2 separate regions of the Homo sapiens genome follow, and region 2 is linked to region 1. The links come from fine-mapping of genetic effects on gene expression. A gene starts in region 1. The other region holds a variant in brackets. All regions are shown on one strand. Distances are between the middles of the regions.

Evidence for each region. PIP is the estimated chance that this variant, and not a neighbour inherited with it, causes the effect.
Region 2: its variant is fine-mapped to the expression of ZSCAN9 in whole blood (INTERVAL, PIP above 0.99).

The regions. Positions count from the first base shown.
Region 1 is chr6:28,223,385-28,228,384 of GRCh38, reverse strand. It overlaps ZSCAN9 (zinc finger and SCAN domain containing 9), which reads right to left and starts at 3,110. Exons shown (of 4, transcript NM_006299.5): 1 at 3,019-3,110; 2 at 881-1,373; 3 at 548-695. The coding sequence starts at 1,300. RefSeq lists an enhancer at 3,206-3,305.
Region 2 is chr6:27,967,468-27,973,009 of GRCh38, reverse strand. No RefSeq gene overlaps it. Among named protein-coding and RNA genes, the nearest start is that of OR2B6, 13 kb to the right of the region's middle. The variant T/G (reference allele first, on the strand shown) is at 2,553.

The DNA of each region.
Region 1 (5,000 bases):
AGCCAGGAAGAGGCCTCACCAGAAACCAAACCTGATGGTATCTTGATCTTGGACTACTAGCCTTTGAAAATGTGAGAAAATAAATTTCTGTTAAAGACAACCAGTCTGTGGTATTCTCTTAAGGCAGCGCAAGTAGACTAAACCAAAGCTATTATCAACCCCATTTTGTAGATGAGGGATCTGAGGTCAAGTGGTTAAGTAATCTGCCCAATACAAGCAGCTTCCATGAGGCGATGCCAGGATCTGAACCTGTCTGTCAAACCTTGAAGTCCATTCTCTGAAGCTGTGCTCCACAGCGATCCCTGAAAGCCTTCCTCATGTACCATGCATCAGAAGTCCAGAAAGCTTCCAGGGTGGTACTCAGGGAGAAGTCTGCACGCAGGGAGAAGGGTCAAAGATGAGCACACTAGGCTCTCAGAAGAACTGACCATTACTGCTATCTGGTAAGGAGTCTTTGGGTCTCCTGTTTTCCCAGCTCTGGGTTTATTGTTTGTTTTTGCTTGACCAGGTGGGATTCGTTCAACATCAAATAAATGCTGTCCCTCACCTGTCTCTCCAATAGAATGGCACTTCTGAGCAGAGTCACATGTGAGCTGTGGCTCCTTAGGCTGGGACTGAAGGGTCAGTGGTGTCTGCTCTGCTAGAGGCACCATCTCTTTACAGAGGACTTCTTGTCTGTGTCTGTGGGCCACCATCTGGGGACAAAAAGACAAGATTTGACTTTTGAAGAAATTAACTGTCTGAAATAAACACTTCCAAGAAAGAAGGAAACAGGAAGAGAGTATTTTATCACCAATGTCAAGGAGACACAAAGCAGAAGTGACAAGGATTCTTGGCATGCCAAAATACACATTTTTCTCTAGCAAATCTCCCTTCCTACCTCATGTTGTGGTTCATCGAGCTCTCTCTCCAGATCCTCCAGCAAAATCACAGCCTCTTCTCCACTCTCTGGACAGTGTTCCCTCACCCAGCCCTGGAGCTCCTTGGGCAGAATGGATAGAAACTGCTCCAGCACCAGCAGATCCAAAATCTGCTCCTTTGTGCTCACATGTGGCCTCAACCACTGGTAGCAAAGTTCCTGGAGTCGAGTAAGAGCCTCCCTTGGTCCAGGGGTCTCTTGGTAGCACAGCTGTCGAAAGTGCCTTCGGAAGATTTCCCTTGCCAGTGGATTACTGCGTTTCAGTCTGGATTCCTGCCATTGAAGGTGACTTTTTGCTTCCACTTTCATTGTCAGAAGTTCTTCCCATGCCTCGGGAACTTGAACACCCAGGGATAAAACCTCCTTTGAGTTTGTATTCATCTTGACCTTGAACAGCTTAAAAGGTACCCTCCAGCTGGAGCTATGCTTCAAGACAAACCTTGGAGGCGCTTGCCTAAGCAGTAAAAATAAATTATTTATATAGAAAAATGATAATAGCTGATGACAGAAACTGATAATACAAGCAATTATCATAGGCCCTAAAGCTCTTCTCTGAAAAGTGATTTGGTGACCAAAGGATGGAAATAATGGAAATATATATATTCATAATGTGCTAAGAGCATAAGCTTTTAAGTTACCCAGATATGGGTTTTCTTTCTTTCTTTTTTTTTTAAATGGGGAATTTCACTCTGTTTCCCAGGCTGGAGTGCAGTGGCATAATCACAGCTCACTGCAACCTCAAACTCCTGGGTTTAAGTGATCCTCCCACCTTGGCTTCCCAAAGTGCTGGGATTACGTCAGCCACCACAGCTGACCCAGACCTAGGTTTTATTCTGATCCTAATATTTACTAGTTGTGTGACCTTGTGCCAAGTTTTTAAATCTTCTTTCAATCTTGATTTCTTTATGTGAAGAAGAAATAGCAATAATGCTTCACAGAGTTCATGGAGGAAAACAGCCCATGAATTAGGGACTGCACCGATCACTCAGAAAGTCTGAATAAAAAGTTTGAACTCACTGTATAAACATCAACTTAGAGAAAGAATAAATGGAAATATTGTTACTGTCGACTAAATGAACGAACCAACATTTACTTTACTATTTACTTCAGTTTTCTTAATCTTCAAAACAACCATTTAAGGTTAGTATTATTTTCACTAAATTTACAGAAAGAAAGGCTTAGGTGGATTCCAAGTCCTGGAGCTTTCCACACCGCCCTGCTGCTACTGAAGAATAACAGTCAACACTGCACAAGTCTACAATATGCTTTCAGATACAAGACTATATTTCATCCTCACAATTACCCACTGAGGTTTTATTATAATAATTATTTCACTAGATAAGAAATGGAAGCCAGGGAAAGTTAAGTAGATTGCCCAAGGTCAACTTCTTTTTGAGGACAATCCTAAGAAGCCAAAGAAGCCCAAGGGAAAAGTTTTCTCCACAGACGCAGGAAGCACCTGAAACCCATGGGGGTGTTCCCAAAATGTGTGTCTCCAAAATGCCAGGAAGCACAGCGCAGCAGCTGAATTCCAGCTTGAAAGGCCCTATGGCAGACATCTGGGGAATCTGAATTGGGAGGTGGAGAGAAGTACAGGGAGACCCAGAATATGCCCTTTAACGGGCTCCTCAGTGATTTGTATGTATTATAAGGTTTGAGAATCAATGAACTAAGGAAAAGGGAATCGGGAACTGCTACATTCTGCGCTTGAAAACCAGTCCATTCAACGCCCCTTAATTTGCTTTCAGAATCTAGAGGTAAGAGGGTATACAGGTTCTCCATCGTGAAGGCTGCCAAAGTCTTAATTGTCCTTAACTTCCTCTCCCGGGTGTTTCTTTCCCTGAGTCCTAAGCCTGTTGTCGTTATTCACCGAGGTGACCCTTCAGCCTCGCAGTCCTCCTACAACCCTTTCTTGTACAATGTCCCCACAGCTGGGGATGACCACTCTGGTCTAGGGGACGCCCGAAGCCGCCCGGCACTGACCGCCGCCCCCTCCTCCGGCTCCCACTTCCCAGCGGCTGAGGTTCACTTTCCACACCCCTTTTCCAGCCCCACCCTCCCTGACCCGCCTCCATTCCCGGTCCCCACAGCCAACTCACGAGACCCGGAACGCGCAAGGAGGGAGAGGGGGTTACCGGCCCGGCGTTGCTAGAAGCGCGGCACGAACAATGGCCGGGCAGGGAACAAAGATGCCGACCTCTCCTCGAAGGCGGACGGAGCAGAGGCACTTCCGGGCCGGTCTAGGATTCCATGTCTCGATGTCCGGCGTTCACCTTGCTTCGGACTCAACCCCCAATTTCCTGGCGTCCAGTTCTTTTTCAGCAGTGAATCACATAATCAGAATGTCATACGTGTGTGGGCCGCACACAGGTTTTAAACGGAAAACGTTGATGAAGCATAGACCGTTAACTATTGAAAATGATGATTTTTAAAAGCATTTTTAAAATTAATACATTATTTATGGTTTAAAAACCCTCAGACAATACCAAAATTAATAAAGTAAAATGTCAAACCCCACCTACCCCTCCTTAGTCCCACTCCCCGAGGCAGCCACTGTCACCGTTAGCCTGGAATTTGTATATCATTGTGATCCTCTCTCACACACACAATGGCATTATTTTATATTTAGCCTTTTCTCCCCCGCTTATTTTAACGTTTTCACTTCATGTATCCTAAAAAGCTTTACTCATCATGTAAGTCTAACTTATTGTATGGGTGCATAACAGTCCATAAAGCAATTTATTTGTCCAGGCCCCTATGTATTCTTTATTTAGGCATCTGCCTGCGTGCTTGCCTTCTTTCCTCCCTCCCTTCCTCTTTTCCTACCTTCCTCCCTCCCTTCCTGCCTTTCTCCCATCCTCCTTTCCTTTTCTTTCTTTCTTGTTTTTGTTTTTTGTTGTTTTTTTTTTTTGCTGTAAAAGTTTTCTGGAGTTTTAGTAATAATAATACAAAATCAAACCAAAACCAATTAAATAAATTTGTCACCCAGGCTGGAGTGCAGTGGCACCATCATAGCTCACTGCAGACTGCAACTCCTGGCTCAAGCAATCCTGCCTCAGCCTCCTGAGTAGCTGGGACTACAGTCACATACCACCATGCCCAGCATTTTTTTTGGGGGAGGGGGGTAGAGACCAGGGTCTCGCTTTGTTGGCCAGGCTGGTCTCTAACTCCTGACCTCAAGTGATCCTCCCACCTCCGCCTGGCAAAGTGCTGGTACAGGCATGAGCCACCATGCCCAGCCTTAAATAAATTTTATTGGTACAAAAGAGCGTAATTGTAGGTACTGTTAGTCATTCATCAGTTTTACTATGCCAACCAGAATGATGGTGTCACGTAGATTAAACTATATTCTGTTTGTTTTAACAGAATCTTATCATTTATTTTATTAAAGCAGTAAGAAAGTATCTTGTGTGTTAATGGAGGCTCCATGATCTGTTTTAACTCCAAAACGGTAGTAGCTCGGAAAATTTCTTTATTATTTTCCTCAACCTAGCCTTCTGAGGGCATTAAATAAACCCAAGCTTTATGCTTTACTTCTTTTTCTTTCAAATATCCAATAAGTATATAATCAATAAGAGCACTAACATGCAGAAAATTTGCTCAAAAATCCTCATCACTTTTTCCACCATACCATGTTCACTTGCAAATCCCTCATTACAAACTTTCCTAACAAACTATGAAATGAGAGTAAATGCTCAATTTCTCTTGGACTTGAATAGACTGTTTAAATATGTTATTCTTTTCCATTTTGTATGACCATCTGTGACAAGTAAATGCAATTTAATATTTGTATGAAACTTCTTAAATGTCTCACTGGCAGTTGGTTAGGGTCTCTCACTGGTTTATATGTGCTTGCTAAGTGGGTCAACTATAGGGCTCAGGCAGGCTCCAGCCCAGAGTCAAGTGGGCAGCACGTTGGACTTCACAATGGTTAGCCCTGAGAGAGACTGGCTTTCATTTGTCTGTTTCCGGGAAGATTCCACTATAGCAGTACTTTGATGAGTATCCTGGGACAGAAGGGATTATTTTTAACATATAACTGGGAATCCGTACTGAATATTGAAAATGCCACACCAACTCA
Region 2 (5,542 bases), 260 kb after region 1:
ATATGTACATTCATAAATAAAAAGTATAAAGTCACAGAAAAATGTGGTGTGTGCGTGTGTGTGTGTGCATGTGTGTGTATGTGTGTGTGCGCATGTGTGTGTATGTGTGTGTGTGTGTGTGTTGATACGGAAGCTAAACAAAAATATTTTAAACATATTTTGAGTGTATTACATAGTAAATATTTCAAATATATTTTTAAACATATTAAAACGTATTAGAGAGTAAATATAAATTGTTAAAGAATACTATATTAAAATTGAAATTATTAAAATATAGTTATATATTAAATAAAATACATTAACTTTTGAAAAATTGTGTTTCAAAATTTCAGCTATAATGCATCCCCATTTCTAAAATATTATAATTTACATGAATATGCCAAGATAACTGGATTTTGAAGGAAGTGGATTTTCAATTTATGCTTTTTATTCTTTCAAAAATTTTTTGTATTAAAAAATATTTTTAAATTGATGCATAATAATTGTACATATTTATGGTGTATAGTGTCATATTTTGCAATGTATGCATTATATAATGATCAAATCAGGGCATTTAGGCCGGGAGCAGTGGCTCGCGCCTGTAATCCCAGCACTTTGGGAGGCTGAGGTGCAGATCACGAAGTCAGAAGTTCAAGACCAGCCTGTCCAATATGGTGAAACCCCATCTCTACTAAAAAAATACAAAAATTAGCCAGGCATGGTGGCACGTGCCTGTAGTACCAGCTACTCAGGAGGCTGAGGCAGGAGAATCGCTTGAACCCAGGAGGTGGAGGTTGCAGTGAGCTGAGATCGCACCAATGCACTCTAGCCTGGGCGACAGAGTGAGACTCGTCTCAGGAAAAAAAAAAAAAAATCAGGGTATTTAGCATGCCATCACCTCATATATTTATCATTTCTTTGTGGTGAGAACATTCAAAATTCTCTCTTCTAGCTGTAGAAAAATATACATATTTTAATACATAATATAATGTTTTAGCATATAATATAGAGTAATATTTAATATAGAATATTTTGAAATCTACAATACGATCTTATTAACCGTAAGTCACCCTACTGTGCAAAAGAACATTAGAATTTACTACTCTATCTTATTGCAACTTTGTATCAATTGACTGAATTCTCCTCATACTCCCCTCTCCTGGTTAACTACTGGTTTCCAGGAGTTTCTGGTAACTAATATTCTACTCTTTATTCCTATGAGATAGACTTCTTTAGATTCCACATATGAGTGAAACGTGGTGTTTGTCTATCTGTGCCTGTTTATTTCACTTAATGCATGTCCTCGAAGTCCAACAAATGCATGTTATTTGTTGCCACAAATGACAGGATTTCATTTTTTATGACTGAATAGTATTCCATTGTGTATATATGCACAGTCCTTTATCCATTCATCCATTGATGAATACTTAGGTTGATGAGATATCTTGGCTATTGTGAACAGTGCTGCAATAAACATGGGAGTGAAGATATCTCTTAGACATACTGATTTTAATTTCTTTGGATACATAGGCAATAGTGGGATTGCTGGATCATATTTTAATTTAATCTAATTTAATTTGATTTAATTTAATTTTAATCTATTTTCATTTTTTGAGGAAGCTTCATACTGTTTTCAGTAATTGCTGTACTAATTATATTCTCACCAACAGTGTATAAGAGTTCCCCTTTCTCCACATCCATGCTAGCATTTGTTATTTGTTATTTTTTACATAGTAGCCATTCTAATTGGGGTGGGGGGATATCTCATTGTGGCTTCGATTTGCATTTCCACGATGATTAGTGATGTTGAGCATTTTTTCATTAAATCAGATAATAATAATTAATTATTATTATTACTAAGGAGTGGTTTGAGTTCCTTATACATTCTGGATATTAACCCCTTATCAGATGAATAGTTTGCAAATATTTTCTCCCATTCTATAGATTGTCTCTTTACTCTTTGGATTGTTTCCTTTGCTGTGCAGAGACTCTTTCGCTTGATGTAATCTCATTTGTTTGTTTTGGTATTCTGGGCTTTTGAGGTCTTATCCAAAGATCCTTGCCTACACCAATGTTATAAAGCATTTCCTCTATGCTTTCTTCTAGTAGTTTTGTCATCTTGGGTCTTACATTTAAATCTTGAGTCCATTCTGAGTTGATTTTTGTTATATGATGAAAAGATAGGGTCTATCTAGCTTCATTTTTCTGCATGTGGATATCCGGTTTTTCCAGCACCATTTATTAAAGAGACTGGCCTTTCCCCAGTGTGTGTTTTTGGCACATTTGTAGAAAACCAATTAGCTGTAATTGTGTAGATTTATTTCTGGGTTCTCTATTTTGTTCCATTGGTCTATATTAATTTTTAAGCCAGTACCATGCTGTTTTGGTTACTATAGCTTTGTAGTATATTTTGAAGTCAAGTGGTATGGTGCCACCAGGTTTATTCTTTTTTCTTTTATTCTTCTTGTTCAAAGACCGCAAAAGCACAGTTCAAAGTGGCTTTAGCTATTTGGGGTTTTTGTGTGTGTGTGTGTGGTTTCACATGCATTTAGGAATTATTTTTTCTATGTGAA[T/G]CATATCATTAGTATTTTGATTGCATTGAATCTATAGATTGCTTTGGGTATCATAGACTTTTAAACAATGTTAATTCTTTCAATCCACAAACATGGATATCTTCCCATTTATTTGTGTACTTTTTAATATATTTCAACAATGTTTTATAGTTTTTATTGTAGTGATCTTTCACCTCCTTGGTTAAATTTATTCCTAGGTATCTTTTTTTTGTAGTGATTATAAATGAGATTGCTTTCTTGATTTTTTTCAGATAGTTTGCTATTGGCATATAGATACACTACTGATTTTTGGATGCTGATTTTGTATATTGCAACTTTACTGAATTAGTTTATTGGTTCTGACAGTTTTTTTGGTGGTGTCTTTAGGGTTTCTATATAAAAGGTCATGTCATCTGTGAACAGGGACAATTTGGCTTTCTCCTTTCCAATTTGTATGTCTTCTATTTCTTTGTCTTGCCTACTTGCTCTGATTAGCACTTCAGTACTATGTTGAATAAATGTGTTAAAAATGGGCATTCTTATATTTTTCCAAATCTTAGAGATGAAGCTTTCAACTTTTCCCTATTCAGTATGATGTTAGCTGTCAGCTTGTCATATATGGACTTTATTGTTTTGAGGTATGTTCCTTGTACACCTGGTTCAAGAGTTTTTATCATAAAGCCTGTTGAATTTTATCAAATGCCTTTTATTTGTCATGTAGTTTTTGTCCTTGATTCTGCTAACATGATATATCATGTTTATTGATTTGTGTATGTTGAACCATCCTTGCAACCCTAGGACAAATTTCACTTGATCATAGTGAATGATCTTTTTAATGTGCTATTGAATTTGGTTTGCTATATTTTTAAGAGTTTTTGTATCTATGTTCATTAGGGATATTGGCCTGGAGTTTTCTGGTTTTGTTGCATTTTGTCTGGTTTTTGGTATAAGAGTAACAATGGCCTTGTAGAATGAGTTTGGAAGAATTTCTTCCTCTTCAATTTCTAAAATACTATGATTTACATAAATATGCAAAGATAACGGGAGTTTCAAAGAAGTGAATTTTTAATTTTCCCTGTTTAGTCTTGTAAAAATAAAAAAGTTAACATATAACCATGTGAAAATGTAATATATAATTATGACTATATGTTACTTTAACATTTAAAAGGGTTAAATAAATTTTGGAAGTAAATTTTTAAAATTAAGCTTCAGTTTAATGTCATTTGTTTTTTCATGTTTTCTCTGTCTTCTAAGTAAAAAGAAAAGATACTCAACCCACTAACTCATTTAACAATTGACTTATTGTCCCTGATAGTTAAGGAGTTGAGAAAAGAAAGATGGAATTATAGATTGGAGAGACTAAAGAATGAGAAATATTTGGATTTATTGATAAAATAAGTTTTTCTTAGGCCATTTTTTTTCTGGTAAAATTGAAAGATGGCTACATTTACTCATGTGATTCTCTCTGCATAACTGAAAAATCTTAAGGGATTCTGAGTGATGACATCAATGGGTAATATTTAAAACTAGAGCAAGTGGGAAATTGATTTTCACCTTCTGCAGTTCTTTATAAAAGTTGGAAGGAAGAACAAGACCCTAGATATCTCATTGTAATAACTATTAGAATTAAGCTACCAACAGCAATGATCTTGTTTTCTCCATGTCCACAGGGATCCAGCTCTTGGGAGAGTAGAACTGATTAACATGTTCTTCCTATGCTGCATGCAACTATTAAAAAGTTTCAAATGACTTTTGTTATAATTCATAAAATAGAACACTCTCTGGGGTTATCTGCCTTAGAAGAGAAACAGTCAATTAATGACTGATTACAGTGGAGAGCTAAAGTGAGTCAGCTCCTGTCACTGTTGTCTTCCCTTTGCTTTACAGTTGCATCTTAGAGCTATTCAGCAGCCCTGGGGATTTACCCAATATTATTATTCACCCCATCAAATCTGAAACTTTCCCATTATAACTCAAATAATCATCCCCTCACTTCTGGATGGCATTTTGATGAGTAGAGATTTAGTGAGAGTATCTAGGAGAGCTATTCTCTATCACTGACTTTTTTGTTCTATGCTTATCCTTCAGGAATAATTCCCATAAAATCTTATAATGCAGAATGACTCTGGGATATGCAATATATTTCTATTCATTAAACATTTTCAGGCACTGTGAAAGACACTTGGGATGTAAATAAACGTTACATATGTTCCCTCAAGGATCTCACAATCCAGAGAAAGGTAAGAATGAGGAAATTACAATATTGTGTCACAATTACTATCTTATCCAAGACAGTGAAAAAGATGAACATTGGATTATTTATTCTATTATGTTTGTTAACTGCTTATTATTTTTCCATTCTTTGATATTTTCATTTCCATTAAGTATTGTGTTTACTGCTATATTCCCCTCTGTGTAATCCCTTCTATTAAGTATGAGTTAGTCTTATTGATGATGGCAGGAGGCAGATAGGTTCCTAGGTGGGAAGGGGCGGGTCTGCAGTGAGGCCCGACCTTCAAGCCAAGGATGGCCTGAAGCCTGGGGGTTGGGTTGCCAGTTCCAGATGGAGTCCAAGACATAGAGTAAGAACTTCCTTGATGCCTTTTGGACAATCAGGTGATGCTTTTTCCTGGCCCACCCATTGACCAATCAACGTGCACTTTCTCCATGGACCAATTCTCCTGCCCAGCATGTACTTCCTCCTTTTCGAGGACGGGCTCATAATAACCTTCCTGGGGTTATTCTGAGCCCATAAAAACCCCAGATTCAGTCCAACCCTGCCTGTGAATAGGAGCTACCCACTTCAGGTCTCTGCTGAGAACTGTTCTGTTGCTTAATAAAGCTCTTCTTCACCTTGCACACCCTCCAGTTGTCCACATAACCTCATTCTTCCTGGACACAGGTCAAGAACTCGAGACCCATGGAATGGCAGGCGTGAAAAGGGCTGTAACACTTCCCTGGCTGGCTCGCTAAGCTATGTGGGCAGTGACACACTCCTGTTTGTCAAACTG